2 linked regions of the Homo sapiens genome follow. The protein of the gene in region 2 purifies or fractionates together with the protein of the main gene of each other region. This does not show direct contact. Each region holds a gene or a part of one and is shown on either strand. Other genes may lie near its edges. The genes, in order: LRP4 and SHPK.

What was found.
Region 1: the proteins of SHPK (region 2) and LRP4 purify together in Homo sapiens (affinity purification with mass spectrometry; one large-scale study listed by BioGRID and IntAct). This does not show direct contact.

What each region holds. Positions count from the first base shown.
Region 1 is NC_000011.10:46,894,547-46,898,357, reverse strand, and holds part of LRP4 (low-density lipoprotein receptor-related protein 4 precursor), read left to right. Parts: intron 1-53; exon of another isoform or gene 54-162; intron 163-1,363; coding exon 1,364-1,489; intron 1,490-2,022; coding exon 2,023-2,148; intron 2,149-2,339; coding exon 2,340-2,474; intron 2,475-3,066; coding exon 3,067-3,192; intron 3,193-3,538; coding exon 3,539-3,769; intron 3,770-3,811. UniProt on the Homo sapiens protein: Mediates SOST-dependent inhibition of bone formation. Functions as a specific facilitator of SOST-mediated inhibition of Wnt signaling.
Region 2 is NC_000017.11:3,622,643-3,626,453, reverse strand, and holds part of SHPK (sedoheptulokinase), read left to right. Parts: intron 1-2,222; coding exon 2,223-2,406; intron 2,407-2,962; coding exon 2,963-3,115; intron 3,116-3,811. UniProt on the Homo sapiens protein: Acts as a modulator of macrophage activation through control of glucose metabolism.

The sequences.
Region 1 (3,811 bases), on a different chromosome or scaffold from region 2:
AAAACTTAGCTGGGTGTGGTGGCGCATGCCTGTAATCCCAGCTACTCGGGAGGCTGAGGCAGGAGAATCGCTTGAACCTAGGAGGCAGAGGTTGCAGTGACCCGAGACGGCGTCCCTGTAGCAGAGTGAGATGACATCTCAAAAAACAAGACAATCCGGGAGGTGAGGGGCGCCTCTGCCTGGCCGCCCCTACTGGGAAGTGAGGAGCCCCTCTGCCCGGCCAGCCGCCCCATCCAGGAGGGAGGTGGGGGGGTCAGCCCCCCGCCCGGTCAGCCACCCCGTCCGGGAGGGAGGTGGGGGGGTCAGCCCCCCGCCCGGCCAGCCGCCCCGTCCGGGAGGGAGGTTGGGGGGTCAGCCCCCCGCCCGGCCAGCCGCCCCGTCCGGGAGGTGAGGGGCGCCTCTGCCCGGCCGCCCCTACTGGGAAGTGAGGAGCCCCTCTGCCAGGCCACCACCCCGTCTGGGAGGTGTACCCAACAGCTCATTGAGAACGGGCCATGATGACAATGGCGGTTTTGTGGAATAGAAAGGAGGGAAAGGTGGGGAAAAGATTGAGAAATCGGATGGTTGCCGTGTCTGTGTAGAAAGAAGTATACATGGGAGACTTTTCATTTTGTTCTGTACTAAGAAAAATTCTTCTGCCTTGGGATCCTGTTGATCTGTGACCTTACCCCCAACCCTGTGCTCTCTGAAACATGTGCTGTGTCCACTCAGGGTTAAATGGATTAAGGGCGGTGCAAGATGTGCTTTGTTAAACAGATGCTTGAAGGCCGCATGCTCGTTAAGAGTCATCACCACTCCCTAATCTCAAGTACCCAGGGACACAAACACTGCGGAAGGCCGCAGGGTCCTCTGCCTAGGAAAACCAGAGACCTTTGTTCACTTGTTTATCTGCTGACCTTCCCTCCACTATTGTCCTATGACCCTGCCAAATCCCCCTCTGCGAGAAACACCCAAGAATGATAATAAAAAAATTAAAAAATAAAAAAAAATAAAAATAAAAAAATAAAAAGAAAAAAAAAAAAAGACAAACAGGCCACTACCCATAAATCTTGAAGACACTGGGTAAGACCACCACCATGTACAGTTGTGTAGGTTGTGCACTGTGCAGAGGCAATATGTCCAAAGGGAAGCCAGTCACATAATAGATTTATATACTCATCATGGCAGTTTTCCAGCAGATGGCAGTAAAGTGTCTTGAGGAAAGGATACTTTTTTCTGATTCACACAAAGACACTATATAGACCAGCTGTGATCCCGGTGTCAAGAGTGGCATGGGTACTGATATAAGCTGCAGATTTGGGTGGCAGGGAGAATTTCAGGCTGAAATGGGGCCCACCTTTCATTAAGCCTTTGCTTTGCCCAGCCACCTCCATGTGTACGGCAGAACAGTTCCGCTGTCACTCAGGCCGCTGTGTCCGCCTGTCCTGGCGCTGTGATGGGGAGGACGACTGTGCAGACAACAGCGATGAAGAGAACTGTGAGAATACAGGTGGTGTCTCCCGGGGTGCCCCAGAACCCTTAGCCTATAGTTGGGGTGGAAGGGTGGAAAAGAGGGTGCTTTGGTATCTTTCCAGTTGGGTTGAGGTTTTACCAGTGTAAAATCCAGGTGCATCATTGACCTGCGGCCTTATGGCCTGGAGCACAGTATCAGAGCTGCGAGTTTCAATTGCCACTCCTATTCTAACTCACACACAGCCAGTGCCTTTAGCTCTGGTCTAGTGAGGAAGGACTACCCTCCATCTGGCAGCCCCCATGTGTGCTCCCCTGGCCACACCCAGTATTGAGCATGTGGTTGCACTTTTTCATTCTGTTCCATATTCCTCACCATCCCACTGTGGAGTCCTGGGGAGAAAGCAAATGCAGACATTCAGCCAGCCCTGTCTGAGCTGCTTCCTGCCCAGGACCCTCACCCTCCCACCTTGAGTCTCATCTGTCTCCAGCTTACCCTAGAAAATGACAGGCTCCCATCTCTTTGTTGGCCCAAGCCCTGCCTTGCTATGACCTGACCCTCCATCTCTCTAGGAAGCCCCCAATGTGCCTTGGACCAGTTCCTGTGTTGGAATGGGCGCTGCATTGGGCAGAGGAAGCTGTGCAACGGGGTCAACGACTGTGGTGACAACAGCGACGAAAGCCCACAGCAGAATTGCCGTGAGTGTCCCCAGTGGGCGGACCTGGCCCATGGTTTGTGGCCGAACCCCACCCATAGGGTTCAAAGGGAATCCTCCCTCAGGACTCTTGCAGCTTTGGGAGCTGTTCTTTGTGGTCCAGGTGGAATGCCAAGTTGGCTCTCTGGGGGAGGATTCTGGGCTCAACTCCCAACTCTGGCTTGGCTGGCACAGGGCCCCGGACGGGTGAGGAGAACTGCAATGTTAACAACGGTGGCTGTGCCCAGAAGTGCCAGATGGTGCGGGGGGCAGTGCAGTGTACCTGCCACACAGGCTACCGGCTCACAGAGGATGGGCACACGTGCCAAGGTGAGCTGGGGCCTGGTTTGCAGCAGAGTCGGGGTTCTGAGCAGGGGCAGCAGACAGGCAGCTGTGTTTCCTATGGGTCAGGCATTTGAACGGTGTGACCTCATTTCGTCCTCACAATAACCCTAGGAGGTGGGGATCATCCTTCCCATTTCACAGATGGGGAGACTGAAGCACAGAGAGGATAAGTAGCTTACCAAAGGCCACACAGCTGGCGAGTAGCAGAGTTGGGATTCCAGCCCAGGTCTGCATGACCTTAAAGCCCTTAACCATTTCTTCTTTTTTATTTTTTATTTTTATTTTTTTGAGATGGAGCCTCGCTCTGTCGCCCAGGCTGGAGTGCAGTGGTGCGATCTCGGCTCACTGCAGCCTCCGCCTCCTGGGTTCAAGCCATTCTCCTGCCTCAGCCTCTTGAGTAGCTGGGACTACAGGTGTGCGCCACCACGCCCGGCCGCCCTTAACCATTTCTTAGACAGCCTTCCCACTAGGCCTGGAAAGTAGATGGGGATGTGGGCAGAAAAGCAGCTCGGCAGCCTGGGAGCGGGAGTGGGAGGACGACAGAAGGGAGATCTCTTGACCTGCCTGGTGTTCCCAGATGTGAATGAATGTGCCGAGGAGGGGTATTGCAGCCAGGGCTGCACCAACAGCGAAGGGGCTTTCCAATGCTGGTGTGAAACAGGCTATGAACTACGGCCCGACCGGCGCAGCTGCAAGGCTCTGGGTAAGGGCTGTTGGCACTTGGCTGGGTGGGCAGAGGGCCGAGCATGGAGGAAGGCCAGGTACTCTGGTGCTCAGGGATTTGCAGAGAGGTAGAGAGATTTCTGTCACAGTAAAATGCAGCAACAGTTGCATTCTGAGCCCCAAGAAAAATGCTGCTGGGGTGGAGTGGGGTGGGGAGGGGTGGAGGAATATAGTTTAAAGGTTGCCACTCTTCTGGTACTGATGCTGACAGCTTGGGGCATGTCCTTGTGAGCAAGTGGCTCCATCGGTCAGCTGAAGACCTGCTGATGGGTACCAGGGGCGGCTCTGAAACCCAGTGGGTATCCCATGTTTATACTGTTTCCCAGGGCCAGAGCCTGTGCTGCTGTTCGCCAATCGCATCGACATCCGGCAGGTGCTGCCACACCGCTCTGAGTACACACTGCTGCTTAACAACCTGGAGAATGCCATTGCCCTTGATTTCCACCACCGCCGCGAGCTTGTCTTCTGGTCAGATGTCACCCTGGACCGGATCCTCCGTGCCAACCTCAACGGCAGCAACGTGGAGGAGGTTGTGTCTACTGGGCTGGAGAGCCCAGGTAGGGAACAAGGCCCCATGGAGAGGGGCAGAGCCATGCCAC
Region 2 (3,811 bases):
GTGAGCCACTGCGCCCGATGAGCTAAGAGGTATTGAGGATACAAACAGAAGCACTAGCATCTAAATCATAAGAGACCAGAAAGGGAAAAATAAAAATGGAGAGGAGGAAATCTTTGAAGAAATAATGGAGAAAAATTTCCTATAATTGACAACATAAGATAGAACACCCCAGCCTGAAAGGGCCCATAGAATGTCAAAGAGGAGATAAAGACAACCCCCAGCTAGATATATTCTAGTGAACTTTTAAGGATTTCAAAGACAGAATTCCAAAAGCTTACAGAGCAAAAGATCAGATCCCATATGAAAGAATAAGGATCAGATTGACATTAGATTTTTTTCAACAGCAGCATTCTGTGTGAAAAGACAATGGAGTAGCATTTTTTTGTTTGTTTTGTTTTTCTGAGATGGAGCCTCACTCTGTTGCCCAGGCTGGAGTGCAGTGGTGCGATCTCAGCTCACTGCAACCTCCGCCTACTGGGTTCAAGCGATTCTCCTGCCTCAGCCTCCGGAGTAGCTGGGATTACAGGCACCCGCTACCACACCTGGCTAATTTTTGTATTTTTTGTAGAGATGGGGTTTCGCCATGTTGTCCAGGCTGGTCTCGAACTCCTCACCTCAGGTGATCCGCCCACCTTGGCCTCCCGAAGTGCTGGGATTATAGGCGTGAGCCACCGTGCCTGACCAGGAGTAGTATTTTGATGACCTATTGCGGCACAACAAACTACCTCCAACCTAGTGACTGAAAGCAACAAGCATTTATCATCTGTCATGATTTTTTGGGTCAGGGGTTGGGCAGGGCTCAGCCCACTGCTGCTTCTGCATGGTGGTGGTGGAGGTTGCTTGTTAGTGTTCAACTGGTGGACAGACTGGTCCAGGGGGTCACGGTGGCTTTACTCAATGCCTGGTACCTTGGTGGGAAGGCTGGAGGCTGGGCTCACCTGGAAACGGTCTGCCGGCTGCTCTTTGCCCGTGGTCTCCTCAGCATGGCGGCCTCGGCGTAGTCGCACTTCTTACCTGAAGGCTGATTCCCCCAGAGAGACTGGTGTAAGAGGCTTGGGCGGGAGCTGCAGTACTTCTTATGACCTAGCCTTGGGAGTCCCAAGATGTGACTGCCTCCACATTCTCCTGGTCAAGCACGTCACCAAGGTGATTCTATATTCAAGGAAAGAGGATTCAGATGCCACCTCTTAATGGGAGGAGTAGTGAAGAATTTGCAACAATCGACCACAAAAAGTGCTTTTAAGCATTGAAGGGAAGGAACTTAGAACCAGACTATTATAACTAATCAAACTGGCATTTAAAGATGGGAACATGAGAAATATTTGGTGGCATCTGGGCCTTCAGACACTGCCTGGAAAGACTGACACTGAAATTGGCCTTGGGAGAAATCACTGAATAAGGGCAGAGAAAAATCCAGAGGATGTCACAAGGCACAAATGAAAAAAAATCTGACGGTCAGATGATTTTAAAGTAAATTTGGATGTCTAAAAATCAATCAGGGCCAGGTGCGGTGGCTCATGCCTGTAATCCTAGCACTTTGGGAGGCTGAGGTGGGTGGATTGCCTGAGCTCAGGAGTTCGAGACCAGCCTGGGCAGCATGATGAAACCCTGTCTCTACTGAAAGTCCAAAAAATTAGCTGGGCGTGGTGGCGTGGGCCTGTAGTCTCAGCTACTCGGGAGGCTGAAGCAGGAGAATCGCTTGAACCTGGGAGATGGAGGTTGCAGTGAGCCGGGATCATGCCACTGCATTCCAACCTGGGGGACACAATGAGACTCTGTCTGAAAAAATTAAAATAAAATAAAATAAAATAAAACGCAATCAGCTAAGAACTAAGGAAAAGAGAAAATTTACTGGTAATCAAGTAGCAGTAAGCCTAGATAATGTCATGATGAGGGTTGGAGGGACAGAGACCAGGGGACTTGAGATTGTGCCAAACATCTTCTGAGATGTGGGGAGATATGATATCAACTTCAAAAAAGAATAAAAACAAACAGAGAAGTGGGGCAAATGGAGGGAGTATGTGACGTGCCCAGGGTCCCACAGTCATTATGTGGTAGAGCCAAGTACTAAAGCCAGTGCTATCAGGACCCATAGGTGTGCCAGGCTTTATCATGGGACGATTCGCACATATTTTGTCACTCACCAGCAGAGTAGTATCAAGGCCGCGCCATGCCTAGTCATTTGCTCTTTTCTTCATTTTTGGTCATCTCTTTTGTTCCAGGCTGTGAATGGACAGAGGGAGGGATTACCCCGGTGTTCGAGCCCCGAGCTGTTAGCCACCTGGTCACGTGGCAGGATGGCCGATGTAGCAGCGAATTCCTGGCCTCTCTGCCCCAGCCGAAGTCTCATCTCAGTGTGGCCACGGGCTTCGGCTGTGCAACCATCTTCTGGCTTTTGAAATATCGGTACGGGCAACTGCACTTTCACTCGGGTGCTGGGTTTCCGGGAGAATGAGAATAGGCCGGGGCTGCGTCAGCATCACCCCGCCTGCTGGGCTGTGCCGCAGTGAGTGTGTCCTGGCAGGACAGGATGCAGCATGGCCTGGACCTCGATTGGGTCCAGAACCACGTCCTTTTGCAGAGGGCTCTCTATTGGTTATCCAGTTCCCACCCACATAGGGAAAGGAGGGAACAGAGAGGGCAAGTGACTTGCCGAGGGTCACGGGGAGAGTTCGCAGTGTGTTCAGGCCTGCGAGGCTGCTGAGGAGGCTGACGTCTGCTTTTCCAGGCTTGACACTTCCTCCTCTCAGGCCCTTCCCCTGGGGCTGACTTAGGCTGGCTTTGCTTGGGGCAGCTGGGAGGTCCTAATCCCAGGGACCCAGCTGGACTTGAGCCATAGTATATGCGGTTGTGGCTGCCACCTGGCCATGGCACAGCTGGTCCCTGCTGCCTGCAGCTAGGTGCGGCACATGCTTCCGAGTTCATGTTATACCGTGTTGGTTGTTTTTGGTATGAAAAACAGCCCAGAGTTCCTGAAGTCCTACGACGCAGCCGGTACCATCCACGACTATGTGGTTGCCATGCTGTGTGGCTTGCCAAGACCTCTGATGTCCGACCAGAATGCTGCCAGCTGGGGCTATTTCAACACGCAGAGCCAAAGCTGGAACGTAGAGACGTGAGTATCACATCCTTGCAGGCTGTTCCTCCTGCTCCAATCTGAAGGGCAACCCCGGAGCCAGTGCTTCAGTGGGTGCTTTCCCATCTGGGAGTGGTGGAGGGTTCCCAGAGGCCAGGATCAGGGTCCAGTGCCCCTGGCCTGTCCCAGACACGGGGCATGGATGGGCCCAGTGTAAGCACAGCCCTGAGCCCTTGGGTAGGGGCCTCAGCCATGCTGTCCTGCTCCTCCACAGCCGCCCAGACCCCAGGTGGGCTCTCCCTTCTCTGTGACCATGAGCCCAGTCTGTAGGTTTCAGAGTACAGCTTTCACTCTTTAATACTTAAACTTAGAGAGCCAGGCGCGGTGGCTCATGCCTGTAATCCCAGCACTTTGGGAGGCTGAGGCGGGTGAATCACCTGAGGTCAGGAGTTCGAGACCAGCCTGGGCAACATGGCGAAACCCCATCTCTACTAAAAATACAAAAATTAGCTGGGCGTGGTGGAGTGCGCCTGTAATCCCAGCTACTCTGGAGGCTGAGGCAGGAGAATCACTTGAACCTGGGAGGCGGAGGTTGCGGTGAGCCGAGATTGCACCACGGCACTCCAGCCTGGGGGACAGAGCGAGACTCTTGTCTCAAAAAAAAAAAAAAAGAAAAAAGAACTAGAGATAGTAGGCTTGAAGGATGCCTTTTAAGTTCTTTTTGAACAATCATTT